Linked DNA regions of Homo sapiens. The protein of the gene in region 1 purifies or fractionates together with the protein of each later gene. This does not show direct contact. Each region holds a gene or a part of one and is shown on either strand. Other genes may lie near its edges. The genes, in order: APBB1IP, PLEKHH1 and ANXA13.

The links.
Region 2: the proteins of APBB1IP (region 1) and PLEKHH1 purify together in Homo sapiens (affinity purification with mass spectrometry; 3 studies listed by BioGRID and IntAct, with this or other methods). This does not show direct contact.
Region 3: the proteins of APBB1IP (region 1) and ANXA13 purify together in Homo sapiens (affinity purification with mass spectrometry; 3 studies listed by BioGRID and IntAct, with this or other methods). This does not show direct contact.

The regions. Positions count from the first base shown.
Region 1 is NC_000010.11:26,560,261-26,567,369, forward strand, and holds part of APBB1IP (amyloid beta A4 precursor protein-binding family B member 1-interacting protein), read left to right. Parts: intron 1-469; coding exon 470-584; intron 585-2,065; coding exon 2,066-2,169; intron 2,170-6,700; coding exon 6,701-7,109. UniProt on the Homo sapiens protein: Appears to function in the signal transduction from Ras activation to actin cytoskeletal remodeling. Suppresses insulin-induced promoter activities through AP1 and SRE. Mediates Rap1-induced adhesion.
Region 2 is NC_000014.9:67,557,272-67,564,380, forward strand, and holds part of PLEKHH1 (pleckstrin homology domain-containing family H member 1), read left to right. Parts: coding exon 1-147; intron 148-2,336; coding exon 2,337-2,420; intron 2,421-4,682; coding exon 4,683-4,764; intron 4,765-4,865; coding exon 4,866-5,623; intron 5,624-6,937; exon of another isoform or gene 6,938-7,109.
Region 3 is NC_000008.11:123,699,340-123,706,448, reverse strand, and holds part of ANXA13 (annexin A13), read left to right. Parts: intron 1-3,712; coding exon 3,713-3,807; intron 3,808-7,109.

The DNA.
Region 1 (7,109 bases):
GGGCACAGCCTTCCTGGTACTGTGAAACAGCTGGCCCACCCTTGGGTTCAGCCACAGACATTATCAGGTTTATTCGCCCAGTGGGTTTTCTAAATGGGAGGAGCGATAGAAACACGAACCTCTCCAGTAACCGGATATTTACTCATGGCGAGTATTGCAAGCTTAGTGTGCAATTAAAAAACGCAAGATGGAACCTGTGATCGAGTTACATAAAGACACACGTAATCAGAACTGAGCAAAGCTCTTCTCTAATATGTAGGTGAAAAAATTAACTGACTCTGTTAATCTGGAAAATGATTGAATGTGTATTTGTTAAATTTTAATGGAAATATCCAAAAAACCAACTCAGACAAGTGGTGAACAGAGTAGCCGTGGAGTATTTATTTCTTCTGTATATGTATATTGCAATTGAGTGCAGAATTTGGGATACATGGATTCCTTTCCTTCTTCCTTTGTGTTCTCTCCCCAGTATGGGAAGACTCTCTATGATAACTACCAGCGGGCTGTGGCAAAGGCTGGACTTGCCTCTCGGTGGACAAACTTGGGGACAGTCAATGCAGCTGCACCAGCTCAGCCATCTACAGGTACTAAGTGGAGGAGAAATTCCAACACATATTCAAAGCTTGGTGCTCCAGTTCAAAATGTATCCAATACATCTATACAAACAGGACTTTGTACACAGCATTCAGAATATGTTTCTCACCTGATGATCAGGCTCAAACTCCCCGACTCAGCCCAGCCCTCACACACACACCCCTATAACATCTGTTTTCTTTTTCTTTTCTTTTTTTCTTTCTTTCTTTCTTTTTTTTTTTTTTTTTTTTTTTTGAGACTCTCTCGCACTGTTGCCCAGGCTGGAGTGCAGTGGCGGGATCTCAGCTCACTGCAAGCTCCGCCTCCTGGGTTCACACCGTTCTCCTGCCTCAGCCTCCTGAGTAGCTGGGACTACAAGCGCCCGCCACCATGCCTGGCTAATTTTTTGTATTTTTAGTAGAGACAGGGTTTCACCGTGTTAGCCAGGGTGGTCTTGATCTCCTGACCTCGTGATGCACCTGCCTCAGCCTCCCAAAGTGCTGGGATTACAGGCGTGAACCATTGCACCTGGCCTGTTTTCTTTTTCTTCTTTGCTTTTTTTTTTTTTTTTTGGAGGTAAGGTCTTGCTCTGTCACCCAGGCTGGAGCCCTGTATCTATTTTAAGCGCCTTTTAACAAAGCTTTGACCACTTCTTTCGTGATATTCTGTGGATGAGGTGTTGATCTCCTGTTTACAGTGAGCTAGTAGGTAGATGTTTCTTATCAAAGTACAAACATTATATCAGTCCAAGGCTCCATTAGTGCCCAGAAAACTGTTCACACCAAGAATAAGATTATGCCCTGGTGTTTTGATGTCTTGCACCCAATCCTGGACAGCACATTTTAAGGTAACATGAGTCAAAGTTCTGTGTCAAAAGGACAAATTAAAAGGCAGGAAAATAAAATAGCATACCAGGACTTTTGGGGGGAAAAACCACATCTAATTCCAGATTATTTCAAGGACCCCCACATTTTGCCCGAATTTCTGTCTGTTGTTTCTGTGTCCAATGTACTTTTTGTTGAGGACAATGTTGAAGAGTTGTTCCTGTACCTGTACTCAGTGTGGTGTGAAACTGGATAAATACATTTTAAAAAAATCAAGAATTTTTAAAAATATGTTTTCAAGGTTTATTCTTCAATTACTGAAAAGTTTTTAAAAGTAAAACATATTGTTACTCTCCAGGATCCCAGTTAGTCCAGACCCTCCTCAGTGGGCTTTATCAAATACCGTACTCACCTTCCTGATCTTTTTGCTGAATCTCATATAAAGTTTTGTCACAGAACCTCAGATTTTTCTTAAGGTTTTGTGTACCATGCCATGCCTGTGAGTTGCTCTCTTTGCTTTGTTTTTATTTTTGTTTTTTTTGTAAGAACTAGCCAACAAGTATCTTTCTTTGCTTTAGAGATGCAAACTGCTTTGTATTTTCAGATCGACTTTCAAGAATGTTGAAAATGCTTTGCTCACTCTTCTTTTCTCACTTCTTCCCTCTCAGGACCTAAAACAGGCACCACCCAGCCCAATGGACAGATTCCCCAGGCTACACATTCTGTCAGTGCTGTTCTCCAAGAGGCCCAGAGACATGCTGAAACATCGAAGGTAAAACCAGCAAGCAGCTGACCCCTATAAGCCATGTTCTAAACCATTCACATTATTCCAGTAACTGCTCTTTTAAAAAGAGAAAATAAGCTGAGTGCAGTAGCTCACACCTGTAATCCCAGAACTTTGGGAGGCTGAGGCAGGAGGATCACTTGAGCTTCAGTTTGAGACCAGACTGGGCAATATAGCGAGAGCTTGTCTCTACTAGAAAAAAAAAATTAGCCAGGCATGGTGGCATGCACCTGTAGTCCCAGCTACTGGGGAGGCTGAGGTGTTTGACTTGCTTGAGCCCAGGAGGTTAAGGCGGCAGTGATCTGTGATTGCGCCACTGCATTCCAGCCTGGGCGACAGAGTAAGATCCAGTCTTAAAATAAATAAATAAATAAATAAATAAATAGAAAATGCAGTTCCAACAACTGAGAAGTTACTACAATTTAATTTAGTTGATTGCTTGATATTTGTAATCTTAAAGTTACATATGCTAGAATCAAAAGTTAAAACCAGCTATCATCACACTGCTTAGGAAAAATGTAAGCATTTCCTTTAAACTCTGGAGTTAATTAGCTATGTTTACTTTGACCAAAGTGGTTTTCTTGGTTTAGTCAAGTGATTTTAGCCCTCTCTGATAGTAGCACATCCAAGTTTTAAACCCATGGGATTTTACTTGCCTTTTTTGAATAAAATAGGGCAACTAGTAGTCTGAAGCCCTATATGAAGTGCTAACTGGCCCCCAAAATCAGATTAGAAGACTGCTAAAAGAGCTACATTATAAATAGGGCTGGGCACAGTGGTGAGCACCTGTAGTCCCAACTACCTGGGATGCTGAGGCAGGAGGATCCCTTGAGCCCAGGAGTTCAAGGCTGCAGTGAGCTCTGGTTGCACCACTACACTCCAGCCTGGGTGACAGATAAAGACCCTGTCTTAAAAAAAAGAAAAAAGATAAAGAAGGGTTACACTAAAAATGTGTATTTTCTATTTTCCCCATTAATGTCCTTCCTACATACATCCCCAGGTGATGGAGGAGAAAATACATTGTAAAATAATAGCCAAATTGGTATAATTCTCCATAAAATTTTTTCAACCGAATAGATCAGTGAAGATTCCTTTAAATCTATCTTAAAATCATAACTAATAATTATTATTTAGTTACTAATTTAGTTCAAAGCTTCTCAGCTGACTGTATATATTCTGTTGAATATTTCTCTTGTGTGATTCAAAACAACCTTAAATAACTGTGACAATAGCATATCACCCAGCTAGGACAGGCAGGGTGCTTCACTTCAACAATTTTTCACTTCTTTCACCCCTTCATTTTGTCCATCAGCCAGTGGTGAAAACAACTAAATATTGGTATTTATCGAACTTATAATTTTGACAACCACTGCAGACCTTTAAACGTTGTATTTCTTTAATGTTCTCATTATCTTCTCAAGCCTGACAATCTCCTCATGCGATGTGCTTTCAGCTACTATTATTTTCATTATTTCTAAATGCCAATTGAAGGACAGCATTTAAAAATGCTGAAAGAAATAAAAGAATCTCAGAATAGAAATCACTTAACTATATGTGAACACCAATTCCCAAGCTGCCTGTTCAGAAATTTAAATAAAAAGAAAAAATACATCACCAGTTAAAGAGCTTATCATGTGAAGTAAATAAACTAAATAAAATAGAAACTAAATCAGAAGGCACTTTATTAGAAAAAAATTCCAAATTTAATCTTCAATGGTAAGAGGCCACTAAGCAGAGAATGAAATGAACTGGAACCCTGATAAACTGTAAATTGAAATGATAATTATCACTAAAACAGAGGGATTCAATCCAGCTGCCTGGGGATGTTTCATTATATAAATTATTATTATCTATTCCAGTATTGGCAGAGGAAGGGCTATGCGTCTATTAGACTTAGGCCAAATTTGGCATGCTGGTTTCTACCAATAGCACATGCTGGTGATTTTACTTTTCAGAACTCACATATTTATCTCATTTGATCTCATCACAACCTGAGACACGAGTCATAATGAGGACTATGGGGCTAATTTTATATCCAGTGAACCAGCCAAGTTTCATGCAGTTGAGAAATGGTAAACTGTCCAGACATAGTGGCTCACGCCTGTAATTCCAACACTTTGGGAGGCCGAGGCAGGCGGATCACCTGAGTCCAGGAGTTGGAGACCAGAGTGGCCAATATGTAGAAACCCTGTCTCTACAAAAAGTACAAAAATTAGCTGGGGGTGTTGGCACACACTTGTAATTCCAGCTAATCCGGAGGCTGAGGCATGAGGATTGCTTGAGCTCGGGAGGTGGAGTTTGCAGTGAGGGGAGATGCTGCCACTGCACTCCAGCCGTGGTGACAGAACGAGACTCTGCCTCAAAAAAATAAAAATAAAAATAAAAATAAAATAAAATAAAGAAAAGAAAAAGTAAACTTATTAGAGACCAGATGTCCTGTCCTGATTCCTGGCCCACCACACTGCCTTCCCTGAAGCTGTGAGGCCAGCTGGAGCCAAGCTTGTAATCGGCTCCTCCCTAGAAGCCCACAGTCCTGGCAAAATGGACCTGTGTTCTCAGCTCACCAACACAAGGAGACATTGTCCCCAAAATCAGGCAGAAAGGTCTTTGCCAGGCAACATATCCTTTGTGCCTACGTTTGCACAAAGCTTACCTGTAGCCAAGAGAGAACTATTTCCATTCACTCTTCCCTTTCCATCTCCTTCATCCTAATCAAAGTAGGACATTTAAGCCAGGAGACTGTGTGAAGGTTTTGGGAAGTCCTCAACCCCCAGGAGTTGCTGTGTGTTTCTACTGTGTGTTGTGTGGAATAGGAGCAAGATAATTTTACAGACGCTTACTCCTGACACGAGCTTCACAACCAGCTCAACTCAGACCAAGAAAAAATGTATCCCTTCCTATATGACGAGGACTCTGGTGGCTTGGCTTGAGAACCAAGGAGTGAAGTCATTTGGCTTCCATTTTGAAGGAATGAATGAGCTGAGGGTGGTTTATAGACTGAGCCAACCCCACAAGAGATATACCACGAAAGCCCCTTTAGAGACACACAGCAACTCCTGGATAAGGCAAGTTCCAAGGAAGTGATACTCATGTGATCTAAATACGATCTAAACACCTCATTGAACATAGCCAGATCTTCCATTTATAGGAGACTTGGTAGATGAGTGCCACAGGGTAACTGAACCCAGGTTTGGCTGCTCACCACTTAAAAGCCAGACTCAAGAGATTAGGGATGATGGGAGGAAAAGGTGGTTTATTTGGAAAGCCAGTAACACCATGAAGATGGTGACTAGTGTTCTAAAGTGCAATCTTAAATTTTTCAGGCTAACTGGAGGATTTTAATGGGTGTGGGATATGGGGAAGAGGAGAGAGTTGGGGAGAGAGTTGAGATCAAAAGATGACCAGAGACTGCAGACATCTGGGTGCCAACAAGAGTCCAAAGAGGTTGGGAACTACTCTGTCCTTGGTCAGGTTACAATGGTCATATAAATCTTTAACAAAACATAGTTGTTTACTTCTTTAATCCCAGAGTTAGTTTTTAAAACTACATGATTGCTGGGTTTGCATATTTATATCAGTGCTCTAAAATTATCCTATGTGCAGGAATGGGTAAAGGCCACTTTAAACAAAAATGAAGTAAGTTACATTCGTTTTTTTTGCTGTTCCACTGTAACAACAGGAAATACTGTTAAAGTCCATTTGGGCCAGGTGGGGTGGCCGTAATTCCAGCTACTCAGGAGGCTGAGGCAGGAGGATCACTTGAGGCTAGGAGTCTGAGACTAACCTGGGCAACACAGCGAGACTCCATCTCTAAAAATATATATAGAGAGAGAGACATAGTCTCGTTGTGTTGCCCAGGCTGGAGTGCAATGGCATGATCTCAGCTCATTGCATCCTCCACCTTCCAAGTTAAAACAATTCTTATGCCTTAGCCACCCCAGTAGCCGGGACTACGGGCGTCTGCCACCATACCAGGCTAATTTTTGTATTTTTAAAGGAGAAAAGGTTTCACCATATTGTTCAGGTTGGTCTTGAACTCCTGGACTTAAGTGATCCACCTGCCTGGGCTCCCAAAGTGCTGAGATTATAGGCATGAGCCACCATGCCCAGCCAAAATATTAAAAAATTAGAAAAATGATTATTTTTAATTTTAAAGACCATTTAGAATAATTGCCTTATTCCAGAACAAAGATGAGCTCATGACCGACCAGGAGTCTCAGTGACTGAGGGACAGAGGCTCCCCAGGGGGCGGACAGAGACTCACATATCTATGGCATGGCCCTGTCCACTAGGGCTGTTTTGTCCACTGGGGCTGCCTTGAGAATAAGGAATGCTACTCGGGAGGTCGAGGCAGGAGGATTGCTTGAGCTCGGGAGGTCGAGGCTGCAGTAAGTCCAGATCGCGCCACTGCACTCAGCCTGGGCGACAGAGTGAGACCCCGTCTCCATTAATTAATAACAATAAATTTAAAATTTCAAAAATTAAAAAAAAAATGAATGCTACTGCCACTCGGTTGCAGGATAAGAAGCCAGCCCTCGGGAACCACCACGACCCGGCAGTGCCCCGGGCCCCGCACGCCCCCAAGTCCAGCCTGCCCCCGCCCCCTCCGGTGCGGAGGTCCTCCGACACCAGCGGCAGTCCCGCCACGCCCCTCAAGGCCAAGGGCACAGGCGGCGGGGGCTTGCCCGCCCCACCCGACGACTTCCTGCCGCCGCCGCCACCGCCGCCGCCCCTCGATGACCCTGAGCTCCCGCCGCCGCCCCCGGACTTCATGGAGCCGCCCCCAGACTTCGTGCCCCCGCCCCCGCCGTCGTACGCAGGGATCGCGGGCTCAGAGCTGCCCCCGCCGCCGCCGCCGCCGCCCGCGCCCGCGCCCGCCCCCGTCCCCGACTCCGCCAGGCCGCCCCCCGCGGTGGCCAAGAGGCCTC
Region 2 (7,109 bases), on another chromosome or scaffold:
GGTGTCATGGAAGAGAAGGTAAAACTATCCAATCTGAAGAATGTGGACTCTGAGGGGAGCCTGCACCGGAAATACCAAGAATTGCTGAAAGCCATAAAGGGCAAAGATGAGCTCATCAGCCAGCTAGAGGCTCAGCTGGAGAAGCAGGTAAGGGCTCATGCGCAAGGGAGCACCATGCCCTCTTCGACATCTGTACTGCTGGCCCCCAGCTTCCTGAGCTGTTCCGCTCAAGCCCTCTAGTGCTGGGGAACTCGCTCCCTCCTGAGCCTATTCTTTTATGTGAAAATTTAATTATAGGAAGGACTGTTCCTCCCACATCTGCTCATTAGAAGCCAGGCAGGGGATAGAGTAGAAAAAGGAGCTTGGAGGCAGACTGATCTGGGTGTGAAGCCCACCTCTAGCACCTGCTGCCTCTGACAGTGGGCAAAGTGTTTAAGTCACTGATTCTTATTTTACACATTTATAAAAGAAGGGTGGAAACACCTCATAGAGCTGCTGGGAGAGGCAACCTATGTGACCTGTGCCTAGTGTCAGGCACGTGGTCAGTACTTGGTAAGGAGAACTTTTCTTTCTCCATTCTGGCCTTGTCGTGCCCTGCCAAGATGAGATACTTGATACTTGGCTGTAGTATGATCAGAGCTGCACAGAGCTGGATGGTCAGTCGTGGCCAGCTGGTTGCCCAAAGTTTCTTAGTGAAGCTGAAGAGGCAGAGACCAAAGTTGTTGCCTCCTCAGAAAACCAGGGTCTTCCCTTCTGAGCACATGGGAGCCCAGGAGAGGCCACTGCCCAGCATTTCAGCTCCACTTGGCACCTTTGCTCCTGAGAGGACTTCTGGAACATCTACCTGCCAGTTCCTGTGTCCTGCCTTCTCCCCTTCACAATCTCACCAACTCCATCCCAGTTCTGTCCCTTTCCTCTGCCACTGGCCTTACCTACCCAGCTTTCCCCTCGTGCCAGAATGCCATCATTTCCAACTAAACACCCCACAGTCTGGACAGATGACTTTTAATTTCCTACACATGCCTTCTCCATGTAGGAGAAGCCGATCCTGGTGGTGCCTTCCAACCATAATGGGCAGATTCATGTTTACCCATCAGCATTAACCCAATAGGCCCTTAATGGAGGTGCCTTTGTATGCTGTGGGGTACCATGTGCTCCTGAAAATTGATGGAAGAATAGAATTTTGACACATGGAATCTCTGATCAATTCTTCCATTGATTTTAGACATACCTTCTCTTCTGAGTAGCTCATAGTTAGAAGTGGCAGCATCTTGGGGGTTGGTGGACAAAATGACTCCTGCTAAAGCTCCTTAGGTCAGAAAAAAGGTCATTTTACAATTGGAATCAGTAGGTCAATCTCATAAAAGAAAAGGCACTGTTTTGTGAGTCAAGAGACCTGGTTTTAGTCCCAGCTGTGCCATGAATGGACAGAGGCAAGTCACTTCTTGCCATAGCCTTAGTTGCCACAGAAGCACAAAGACAATATCAAACCAGGTCAGGGTTGGCCGACTTTTTCTGTAAAGTCCAGGTAGTAACTATTTTATGTTTTGTGGGCCACAGGTCTCTGTTGCAACTGGTCAAAGCTGCTGTTGTAACATGGAAGCAGCCACAGATAATACGTAAATGAATGAGCATGGCTGTATTACAATGCAACTTTATTTACAAAAACAGGTCTGGGTGGGGGCAAGCAGGTGGAGGACTGGATGTGGCCTGAAGGCCATTGTTTGCCACACCTTAAACTAGATGACCTTTAAGGTCCTTCCAGCTCTGAAATACTGAGAGTCTGACGTTGTCTGATGCTGGGATTATAGGCATGAGCCACCATGCCCAGCCAGGCTGCTCCTCTTCAGATGCCAACCTTTTCAATCATCTCCTCTTTTGACTACTTTGATGGAAATACCTCAGTTATCTGCAATTTTGCCTTATTTTTTTGTTTTTTAACTATAAAGGTAACACATGCTTATAGTTAAAAATAAAAAAACGGCCAGAGGAGTATAAAATGACAAGTCACCTCTCTCTCCCTCCCCAGTCCTTGATTTCTACTCCTCACTATTAACTTTGCTTGCATATGGAGGCACAGCGTTCTCCTTCCATGTCAGGGATATGCCGCGTTTATTCAGCCAACCCCTTCGTGGTGAACACTTAGACTATTTCCAGTTTTGAGTTTTTAAATTTTGTGTTACCTTATCAAATAATATTTCAACAAACGATTTCTGCTCACTGGCTTTGCGAGGTCAGTGGCACGCACACTTGGCCTTTCTTGGGGTTTCCCACCTCCAGTCAGTCACTCTCCTGGTGATTGTTGGGATTAACGGAAGGCCCTCTCTTTCTTGCAGAAGCAGATGAGGGCAGAGGAAGCAAAAACTGTTCAAGAAAAAGCTGCAAAGATCAAGGAATGGGTGACACTCAAGTTGGCAAAGGTGGGTTGGAAACTCATCTTGGAGGCCTGCCAGAGGCATGGCTGGGCCTGCCCTGACCCCCGGAGTTTCCTGCCCCCTACTGTCTAGGGTGCCTCGGCTGACCTTCATTCTGTCCAGCACTTGTTTTGCATTCAGCCTCCATGCTGAGACACCGTAGTTCACTTCCCCTTTCCTTTTGTCTTGGTTGGGTCTCCCTGGAGCTCCTGACTAGCTTGGTGCTGGATTTAAGTTTGCGAGAAGGAATGTGTCTCACTTCTGAAAAGCCCCCTCAGTTTCTTTCTAGGAAGCCCACACAGGCCAGTGTCCACTCTCTCCACTTTCTCTTTTATTTTTATTTATTTATTTATTTATTGGAGACAGAGTCTCGCTCTCTCGCCCAGGCTGGAGTGTAGTGGCGCAATCTCGGCTTACCGCAACCTCCGCCTCCCGGGTTCAACCGATTCTCGTGCCTCAGCCTCCCTGAGTAGCTGGGGTTACAGGCACGCACCACCATGCCCAGCTAATTTTTGTATTTTTAGTAGAGACAGGTTTCACCATGTTGGCCAGGCTGGTCTCGAACTCCTGACCTCAGGTGATTCACCCACCTCGGCCTCCCAAAGTGCTGGGATTAAAGGAGGGAACCACCGTGCCCTGCTACTTTCTCTTCCATCCTCTTCATTCTTTTTAACTATTTGTGTGTGTGTGGTAAAATATACATAAAATGTACCATTTAAGTGTACAATTCAGCAATTCAGTGGCATTAAGTACATTCACAGTGTTGTGCAGCCATCACTGCTATCTATGTCTAAAATTTTTCCAAACAGAAACTCTGTACCTGCTAAACACTAACTTCCCATTCTCTCTTCCCCCATCGCCTGGTAACCTCTATTCCACCTTCCCTCTCTATCTATCCATTTTTGTAGTTTATCACGTGCTGTACCTTTATTTAGGAAACTCAGGACTTGAAGCTACAGTGCTATCACCAACAGACAGAAAACAACCTCCTTCTAAATAAAAGGAGTGGGAATTGCAGTTTGGAAAAGGATGAACATATATCTTTTTTTTTTTTTTTTTTTTGAGACGGAGTCTCGCTCTTGTTTCCCAGGCTGGAGTGCAATGGCACAATATCGGCTCTCTGCAACCTCTGCCTCCTGGGTTCAAGCAATTCTCCTGCCTCAGCCTCCTGAGTAGCTGGGATTACAGGCACACGCCACCACGCCTGGCTAATTTTTGTACTTTTGGTAGAGACGGGGTTTCGTTATGTTGGCCAGGCTAGTCTTGAACTCCTGACCTCAGGTGATCTGCCCGCCTCAGCCTCCCAAAGTGCTAGGATTACGGGTGTGAGCCACCACACCCGGCTGACAAACATACATCTTTTCCTCTGTCCTCACACAAGTGGTTCACACCTGCAGGAGGGTATCAGCTCATTTGGCCTCCTATCCCCTTCTTTGGATGTACATCTCAGGTCACCTGCTAGACTGCAAGTTCTTGGAGACAGAACTGATGCCTGGCTTACCTGCGTATTCTCACAGTCCCAACCCTTGCTAAAAGATACTCAATAAAAGTGTGTTGGACTTAATTTAAAGGAAAATGCAGGCTGGGGGCAGTGGCTCACACCTGTAGTCCCAGCAGCACTTTGGGAGACCTAGGCGGGTGGATTGCTCGACACTAGGAGTTTGAGACCAACCTGGCCAACATGGCAAATCTCTGTCTCTACAAAAAATACAAAAATTAGCCGGGCATAGTGGCGTGCACCTGTAGTCCCAGCTACTCGGGAGGCTGAGGTGGGAGGCTAAGGTGGGAGGATGGTTTGAGCCCTGGTGGCAGAGGTTGCAGTGAGCCAAGATTGCACCACTGCACTCCAGCCTGGGTGATAGAGCCAGACCTTGTCTCAGAAAAGAAAAGAATATGCAGCAGCCACGCTCAGTGGCACATGCCTGTAATCCCAGCACTCTGGGAGGCTGAGGTGGGCAGATCGTTTGAGTCCAGGAATTTGGGACCAGCCTGGGCAACATAGCGAGAGCTTGTCTCTACAAAAAAATAAACGAAATTAACTGGGCCTGGTGGTGTGTGTCTATGGTCCCAGCTACTCAGGAGGCTGAGGTGGGAGGATCAGTTGGGCCTGGGAGGTCAAGGCTGCAGTGAGCCAAAATTGCTCCACTGCAATTCAGTCTGGCCAACAGAGCAAGACCCTGTCTCAAAAAAAAAAAAAAAAAGAATTGAAAAAATACATCTAAACCTGTAGGCTGGGTGTCCTAAATCTTCATTTTTCTTTTTGCTCAGCTTGAGATGGAGAATCAGCATCTGAAAAGCCATAATCAGCGCCTGGTGGAGCAGGTGGGATCCCTTCAAGATGCGCTAGAAGGTAGGCAGGCCAGGGTGTGCAGGTGTGCAGTACGTGTGTTTGGTGGGTATGGGGCTGAGCTACGGGAGCTCTCAATGTGACTGTTTTTACCCGAATCACAGCTATTCAGATAGCTCCTTCACGGAAGCTGCTGGTGCCCCCCTACGGAGCTGCAGAGCAGGATTCTGTCCCTTCAGAGCCGGGAATCCAGCCTATGGGCCAGGACAGTGGCTCCCAGGCCCAGGGTCTGAAGGCAGCTGTGCTTGCACCTTCCCCAGGTGCCCTGCAGAGCAAGGACTCTGTTTCTGAAGCAGCAAGCCCCTTGGAGGATTCTAGTTCCAGCACGGTCCATTCTGGGGAAACAGTAGAGGCCAAGCCCCTTCAACCTCATCTGGGAAGAGAGAGCCCTCCCCACCAGCCATGCATGAAGCTTCTTACCTTCAGATGTAGTTCAGCTTCCTGGGGTGAGGGTCTGGTTACTGCTCAGAGAGGGATGCTCCCTGGGACAAAGACCTCTGCCAGGGAAGGTGGTCCTGGCAGCAGTCTGACCCTACCAAAGGTGCGGGCTCCTGGCACCCCGCGGGACAGCATCCAGTTGGCCAAAAGGCACCACAGCCAGCCCCAGGTGGGCCATGGGCACTTTGGCCGTGTGGTGAACATTGAGACTGAGGCCTTCTCAGCCCTCCACCCCTCTGGCCTTCCTGAGCTGGAGTCCCGAGCTAGGTCCCGGGAGGAACCAGAGAAGATGGAGATGGAGGAGCCACCCCCAGCAGGGAAGAATGAGGAAAGAGAGAGCCCAAAGGCCCTTGGAGCTGAGCTGGAGGAAGTGGAGCTGGGTAACAAGCCACCTACACCCCCGCTGCACCAGTTTTCATCCTGGGTAAGAGGCAACCTCCGGGCTGGGCAGAGGAGCAGAGCTAATGGCAAGAACACTGCTGGCTGAGCACAGCCATGCACTGAGCAGGAGAGGAGGCTGCTGGCATCCTCATGGTGGCCCTGGCAGGCAGGTACCATGGAGCCTGTGCAGACCACACAACCAGTGAGGGTCAGCGCCAGAATTCAGAATGATGTGAATGGCGGTTGGCTGTCATTTCCTGAGTGCTCACCGTGCACCATACATTGAGCTGGGTGCCCTGCATACCTTTTCTCATTTAATCTTTGTGAGTCTTTCAGGTGGTCTGGTATGATGGTCAAGAGCATAGGCCCCAGAAGCAAACCACTAGGGTTGAACTGTTAACTACGTGACCTTGGACATGTTACTGAACCTCTGTGCCTCAGCTTCCCTGTCTATAAAATGGGGATAATAGTACCTACTTTATAGGGTTGTTGTGAAAGTACTTACAGTAGTGGTTCACAGTAGGTGGTAGGTAAGTGTTGGCTATTTTTCTTTCTTTGTTTTTCTTTTTCTTTTCTTTTTTTTGGGGGGTGGGGGTGAGGGGGCAGAGTTTCACTCTTACTGCCCAGGCTGGAGTGCAATAGCATGATCTTGGCTCACTGTAACCTCTGCCTCCTGGGTTCAATCAATTCTCCCGCCTCAGCCTCCCAAGTAGCTGGGATTACAGGCATGCACCACCACGCCCAGCTAATTTTGTATTTTTAGTAGAGGCAGGGTTTCACCATGTTGGTCAGGCTGGCCTCAAACTCCTGACCTCAGGTGATCCACCCTCTTGGGCCTCCCAAAGTGCTGGGATTGTAAGTATGAGCCACTGAGCCTGGCTTTTTTTTTTTTTTTTTTTCGAGACAGAGTCTTGCTCTGTCACCCAGGCTGAAGTGCAGTAGCACGGTCTCGGCTCACTGCAACCTCCGCCTCCCAGGTTCAAGTGGTACTCCCACCTCAGCCTCCCAAGTAGCTGGAATTACAGGTGTGTGCCACCATGCCCGGCTAACTGTTTTTTTTTTTTTTCTGAGACAGAGTCTTGCTCTGTTGCCCAGGCTGGAGTGCAGTGGCACAATCTCAGCTCACTGGAAGCTCTGCCTCCCAGTTTCACGCCATTTTCCTGCCTCAGCCTCCCAAGTAGCTGGGACCACAGGCACCTGCCACCACGCCCGGCCAATTTTTTGTATTTTTAGTAGAGACGGGGTTTCACCATGTTAGCCAGGATGGTCTCGATCTCCTGACCTCGTGATCCGCCCGCCTCAGCCTCCCAAAGTGTAATTTTTATATTTTTAGTAGAGTCGGGGTTTCACCATGTTGGCCAGGCTAGTCTCAAAGTCCTGACCTCAAGTGATTCACCTGCCTAGGCCTCTCAATGTGCTGGGATTATAGGCAACTGCGCCAGGCCAGCTTCCTTACTTGTAACATTGGATAAAATGTCTTGATATCTGTCTGGTAGAAATACTTCAGAAGCAATGATCTGGTTGGTGGC
Region 3 (7,109 bases), on another chromosome or scaffold:
CCCAGTACAGTGAGTGGGTCTCCTGCACGCAGAAAGGCTCCTTCCGGGCTTGGCACCTGCCAGGATCCAGGCCTGAGAGGCCAAGGCCCTCGTCTGGGACAGGAGTGGCCTGAATGGAAAGAAAGAGGTAGGCTCAAGAGATATTTACAAGAAAAAGAAATCCCTTTTGAAGTGAGATTTCTGACACTCCGAAGTTTTTTTTTAAAAATCATAATAGTGTCATAGAATGAGTAATTGGATTCCCACGATGGAGGCGAAGCTCCGGGAGGAAATGAAGGAGGACAACGTGAATCCCAGTGTTGAAACCAAGCCAGCACCAGGCAGGCAACTCACTCCTGCTATTTTTGCAAGTGAGATCCTCCTAGAATTCTGTTTCTCCAATTGAAACCAAACAGCTAAATGTTCCCAGAGCTGTAGAGGTGAAAATACTCTTTGAGGTTAAGTGAACGGTTCAAGGACCCAAAGGTTTGGAACATGGTTGTCACATCAGACCCCTGCTCAGGCCTGTCTTTCCAAGTCGCCTCTCTGTCTTTCCAAAGCTGACTCTGAGGGCTGGTGCTGGAGCAGAAGGAGGGTTAAACAGCTCACATTTTTTTGCCAGGGCTCCCTTTTTTTTCTCTACCCCATCTCCAGCTAGTTTCCCTCCATTCATTTCCCATCCCCATGGCCTAGATTTTTCCTACTCTCAACCCTTCCATCAAAATGCATTGCACGATCTTGTTCCTTCAGGATCCTGATGGCTCAGCTGGGTGGCAGCCATCATCTAGGTCCACACACCAACCAGAGCAAGACAGCAGTAAGTGACACTGTAACAGCACACACTGCCATGTAGTGGCCACTCCCTAGAGCCCAGGTGTCGGGCTCAGAATGTCACTACTGCAGTCTTGGATAATCACTGCAGTGATCCTAGAAACATACATGTAAATAGTGTGCTGTGCCAAAACAGAGGAAGCAGAAACTTAACAAGTGTGGCTGAGATTAGGTGAGTAAGCCTTGGGCTGCTCTGTGCAGAGATGGATCTAGAAGAGTAGCATGACACCAAACTGCGGGAAGTCTCGATGCCACCATAAGGGATTCTGATGTAATTCTAGGAGTCAAGAGGAATCACTAAAGGTATTTAAAGTATGGTGTGAAGTGAACACATGCGAGCTTCCCAGGGTGGACTGCAGAGATCAGAGCCTGGTATCGGGGTGAAGGCTAAAAACACTTAGGACCTGTTAGGCAGTGACAGAAGGAATGAAGAAGAGGAACAGGTAAAAGAGTTGTCTCATAGGTGAGACAGGCAGGACTTGGTAGTATTTGAGAGTAAAAAAGACTGATGGGCCCTCAAAGGTGACTTTGGATTTTCTCTAATCCGTGTGATGCCATGCACTGAGACAAAGGAACAGGATGAGGAGTGGATTTAAGGATAGACAAAATGAGTTTGGTTTAAGCTACAATGGAAGTTGAAATGCCTTGGGAGATCCGTGGGAAGTTGACTACAGGCAGCTGGAAATAAGATCTGAACTCAGAGGAGAGATTAGGGCTAGAGGCGCTGATCCTGGAGTCATCAGTCAAAGGGCGAAAGTCGCCTGGGAAAGGAGTGACTCCAATAGAGAGGAGAACTGAAAATCGAGTTTAAAAGGCCAGTGGAAGAATACAGGCCAATCAAGAACCCTGAGAGGGAGGTGATGGAGAGGAGAAAGGAAAGACTGGGAAAGGAGGTACAAAGCCATCTAGGAAGGTGTTTCACGCAAAGAATTGTCAACCGCAGGCCGGGTGCGGTGGCTCATGCCTGTCATCCTAGCACTTTAAGAGGCTGAGGCAGGTGGATCACCTGAGGCCAGGAGTTTGAGACCAGCCTGACCAACATGGTGAAACCCCATCTCTACTAAAAATACAAAAATTAGTTGGGCATGGTGGTGGGTGCCTGTAATCCCAGCTACTCGGGAGGCTGAGGCAGGAGAATTGTTTGAACCCAGGAGGTGGAGGTTGCAGTGATCATGCCACTGCGCTCTAGCCTGGGTGACATAGCCAGACCCTGTCTCAAAAAAAAAAAATAATTCCCGACTGCAGAATTCAAATGCTGCAGAACAGTCAGGTACATGCAGGAACCGAGAAGAGGTGCTGCATTGTGCCTCAGCTTCCTCTTCTGTAAAGAAGAGCTTGGACTAGATAGTCTCTAACATTTCCTCCAGCTCCAGAGATTGCTGACTGCTGTGCCTTGATCCCACCGAGCTCGATCACTGGGGTGAGCAGTTCATGGAGGGTGGTCCCTGTGCACACCCTGCATGGATGTGAGGCAGTGCCAGGCGCGTGGTCATTTACATCCCCTGGTGTCCCGGGTTTCCCACGTGCGTGCTTAGGACCACCGCGGACTGGACCCACACTTGGATTCTCGCATTTCATTCTCACAATAGCCTTGTATACTATTACCCTCATCTTAGAGGTGGGAAAACTGAGACTTGGCAAGAAAAATCACTTGCCCAATGTCATGCAGTCGGTACAGGGTGGAGCTGTGATTTGAGTCCAACCTGAATAAATCTAATGTGGGGTTTGATGGTAAAACCGTCTTTCTTATTCGCACACTGGAAATACCTGTGTCATCTTTCCGATCCTGGTTCCTGGTTCAAACAAGGACATTCTCCCCTTCTTTCTTATTCACTATAGTTTTCAGTACTGATCAAATTGCTGCCATGAGCTTGTATTACTTTGAGCATCAGGGGTAAAAAAGCTTCTAAAAATAACATAATCTAAAGGTAATAGGAGTTAAAAGGGGCAACCTCCCTTCATGGTTTCAATCAAGACTTCTCTCCTGAGATTAACAAATGTATGGGTGGGGTTAATATTGTAACAGTTTCAGCCTATATCCTAATCTTGTTCATGCAATTGTAAGCACCCAGAGGCCAAGGAACAGGCCATCTTTTTCCTTTTTGTTTTTTAAAACATTTTAATTGAGATATAATTCATGCACCATATAATTCACCCATTTAAAGTGTTCAATTCAACAGTTTTTATTATACTCACAGATGCATGCAACCACCACCACAGTCAATTTTAGAACATTTTCATCACTTCAAAAAGCAGCCCTGGACTCCAGCTACCATCCCCCTAGGCAGCCCACCCACCCCCAGCCACTAGTATACTTCCAGCCTCTGTATATTCTCCTGTTCCGGACTTTCATACGAATGGAATTATATAACATGTGATCTGCTATGATTGACTTCTTTCACTTAGCATAATGTTCTCAAGGTTCATCCATGTTATAACATCTATCAGTAATTTATTCCTTTTTCTGGCCAAATAACATTCCATTGTATGGATACCCCATATTTTGTTTATTCATCTTCAGGTGATGAACACTGGGGCTGCTTCCACGTTTGAGCTATTATGAGTAATGCTGCTATGAACATTCACATGCAATTGTTGGGTGGACATATGTTTTCATTTCCCTAGGAATAAAATTAAGGAACCAGCCATACTCGTTCCTCTTTCCACCACAATGCCTAGCACTGTGTGCCATGTGCTGTGAGGCCTCAATGGCTATTTGTCTAAGTGAATGAAAAGAATACAGTTTTCAGCACAAGGCATCAAAGCTAAGGGTCCGTTGGGTTCCATAGACACCTCCAACCACCTTTAAGCTGTGAGTCCTGGCTTCCTCACCCTGGACTAAAATAAACTTCCACCTTGTTTCTTATTCACTGTGGCTTTGTTTGTTTCTCCTGTATTTTAGGGACCAATGAAGCAGCCATCATTGAAATCTTATCGGGCAGGACATCAGATGAGAGGCAACAAATCAAGCAAAAGTACAAGGCAACGTACGGCAAGGTGATTCCAGGGGTGGTCAGCAAGCTTGCACCCAGCCATGGCCTCAGCCGTCTCGGCTTCCTCATGTCCCCAGGCCACGCAGAATATCTTTATAGCTTTATTGAGTCAGCCCAGGAGGAAAAGTGAAATAACCACTTAAAAGCATTAATGGAGTTCAGAAAAACTGAAATTGCTTTGTTAACTCAATAGCCTGTAAAATCAATACTCTTAAACTCATTTCTTAAATTGACTTCATTTTTCTATGAAGACCCTAGTCTTTTTTTCACTTAATTGGGACTAACTGTACATATGTAGCTAGATCAGTAATTTGAAAATCAGTTTCCACAAGTGGGTCTTTATACAGGAATTTTTCATAAGCGATTGTTACAGAAAACTACCAAAAAAACTCTCCATTTTATTAAGCTATCAACACCTATTTTTCTTTACATTTTCTTTCTTTTCTTTCATTCTTTTTATTGTTGAAAATAATTTTATAGAGAGAAGTCTTCAAGTATGCATTAGGCTTTCTTATTTCTTTATTAATATGTAATGAACACAACTTAAACTTTTCTTAATGTCATTAGAATTATCATTATGCAAAATGAATATCAATTATTATGCTGTATTCTCATTTATATTTTTCAAACTTTTACCATTTCAATCACTGTAGGTATAAATAGATATATAGAAAGATGAAGATGGGTTTTCCTATTTATTTGATACTGAGCAGGTAACAATTGCTTCAGGCCTTGGTCTTTTCATGGATAGAAAGAAGATGATAACTTAGCTCCCTTCTCAGGTTGCTGGGAGAATCAGTCAGGATAATGCCAGCATGTACCAATACAGGAAAAAGCTATGATAGCTATGATTGTTTCCATTTTACAAAATCACACACCTAAAAAAAAAAAAGAGAACCAGGACTCACATCCAAGTCTCACATCCAAGTCTCCTGACTTCAAGAACAGTATCCATTCCTGGAGGACCCAGTGCCATAAATAGAGCTATTTGCTTGTACACTAAATGGCCCAAATGGCTGTGCTTTTGTGCTTTTTCTGCTTCTCTCCTTACTATTAGGTGCGTCAATGTAATTTTTGATGAAAATAAGTGCATCTTCAGTTCAACTGCATTTAATTGAATGCATGAAGCTGAATGTGTGTGTGGTTTTTTTTGTTGTTGTTGTTTTGTTTTGTTTTGAGACGGAGTCTCACTCTGTTGCCCAGGCTGGAGTGTAGTGGCATAATCTTGGCTCACTGTAACCTCTGCCTCCCGGGTTCAAGCGATTCTCCTGCCTCAGCCTCCTGAGTAGCTGGGATTACAGGCACGCGCCACCATGCCCAGCTAATTTTTGTGTTTTTAGTAAAATTTTTGTATTTTAATTTTGGTCAGGCTAGTCTCAAACTCCTGACTTCGTGATCTGCCCACATCAGCCCAAAGTGCCAGGATTACAGGTGTGAGCCACCGTGCCTGGCCTGAAGCTGAATTTTTATCCCTGTCAACATCCCTAACTCCAGTAGCCTCCCAAGACACATTCACCCTACCAATATGAAAAGTCAGTCCAGGCAAGGTGGCTCACACCTGTAATCCCAACACTTTGGGAGGCCAAGGCAGGAGGATCACTTGAGCCCAGGAGTTTGAGACCAGTTGAGACCTTCATCTCTACCAAAAATAAAAAATTAGCTGGGCATGGTGGTGTGTGCCTGTAGTCCCTGCTACTCAGGAGGCTGAGGCTGGAGGGTTGCTTAAGCCCAAGAAGTTGAGGCCTCAGTGAGCCGTAGTTGCACCACTGCACTCCAGCCTGGGTGACAGAGAGAGACCCTGTGGAAAGGAAAGAAAGAAAAGAAAAGAAAAAGAGAGAAAGGGAGGTGGAGAGGAAGGGAGAGAAGGGAAGGAAGGAAAGAAAAAGAAAGAACAAAAGAATGAAAGAGAGAGAGAAAGAAAGAGAGGAAGAAGGAAAGAAAGAAAGAAAAATCGGATACAATGCTTCTTAATCTTTAGTCTTTAGTCTAAAGAAGAGTAAATGGATTCAAACTGAAAGCCTAGGGGCCCTGTTAAAACTTAAATGGGCATGTTCTGGCACAAAACTTTGTGATACTTCATTTGCCAATCATTTGCTTACTTTCTGGTTCTCAGCTGTGTTTCAGAGAACTGAGACTGCCAAACAGATAATCTAGAATCCCAACAACGCAAAGCTAGAAGATGTTAGGTATGATCCAATCTCAGCCCCGTGTCAGTTGACCTCCAAAGAGAATAACCACCCCGTGGTAACAGAGTCAGCAGGAAAACCAGGAGTAGAGCTGAGCTATCCCGAGCCTTCTACTCTGTCCAGTCAGAATGTAAGCACACAAGGATTTGTTTTTATGCCTGTGGCTTGTAAGAGTGGGAAGCTGGGATTTTTCTTCTCTGCAGCTTATATAATGCCCATCTGGCCTGAAAATATATTTCCAATTTTTAGATGACTCCACACCATAGAGTACTGACCACAGACCTGCCTTCACAAGATGCAGTGTTGGCTGGAGCAGCCACTGTGGGGCGGAGGCATAATATAACAGCCCCCTTGTAGGACTGCAGATCCCAGGGCTTTGGACAAAAATATTCCGGGTTTTTCTCCCAGGCCAAGAGCTCAGAGCTTCATTTGAAAAATAGTTGATGTGCCTCCTCTTAGAAAATTTTTTTCAGCATGGGAGATTAATGATAAGCATTTATTGACCGTTTAAAATATGTCAGGCAGTAATGCTCAGTATTGACAAGGATTGTCACATTTAATTCTCCCAAAAACCCTGTGAGGTCAGTCTAGCACTGTCTCCATTTTCTAGAGCTGAAAACTGACAGTTGGTGAGATTAAGTACATTTCCAAGGTCACAAAGGTACTGTGGCTGTGTTCTTTGCCACCATGCCACACTGCTGGGGAGCTGCCCACCCTATGCTATAGTTTGTGTCCTTGAAATGCCAGCTTGTCTATGGGCCTCCAATCTGAGCCATCCCAGGCTGTCGCTCTATGTGAAGGTCTTTGGTTTAAGTTAGGGCATTAACTACTCTAGGTAGGCTGATGCCCATCCTTGACCATTTCTCCTGTTAAACCACATTGTCAGAGGGAGACAGGGAGAAGGTAGTTAGTTTTCTTGTGAAAAGAGGGTGCTCAAAGAAAAGAGGAAGACAGGTGCTTGTCAGAATAGATGGCAGGCTGGGGTCATGGTGGCTCACGCCTATAATCCCAGCACTTTGAGAGGCTGAGGTGGAGGATCGCTTGAGCCTAGGAGTTTGAGATTAGCCTGGACAACATGGCAAAACCCCATCTCTACACAAAAAAATTTAAAAATTAGCCG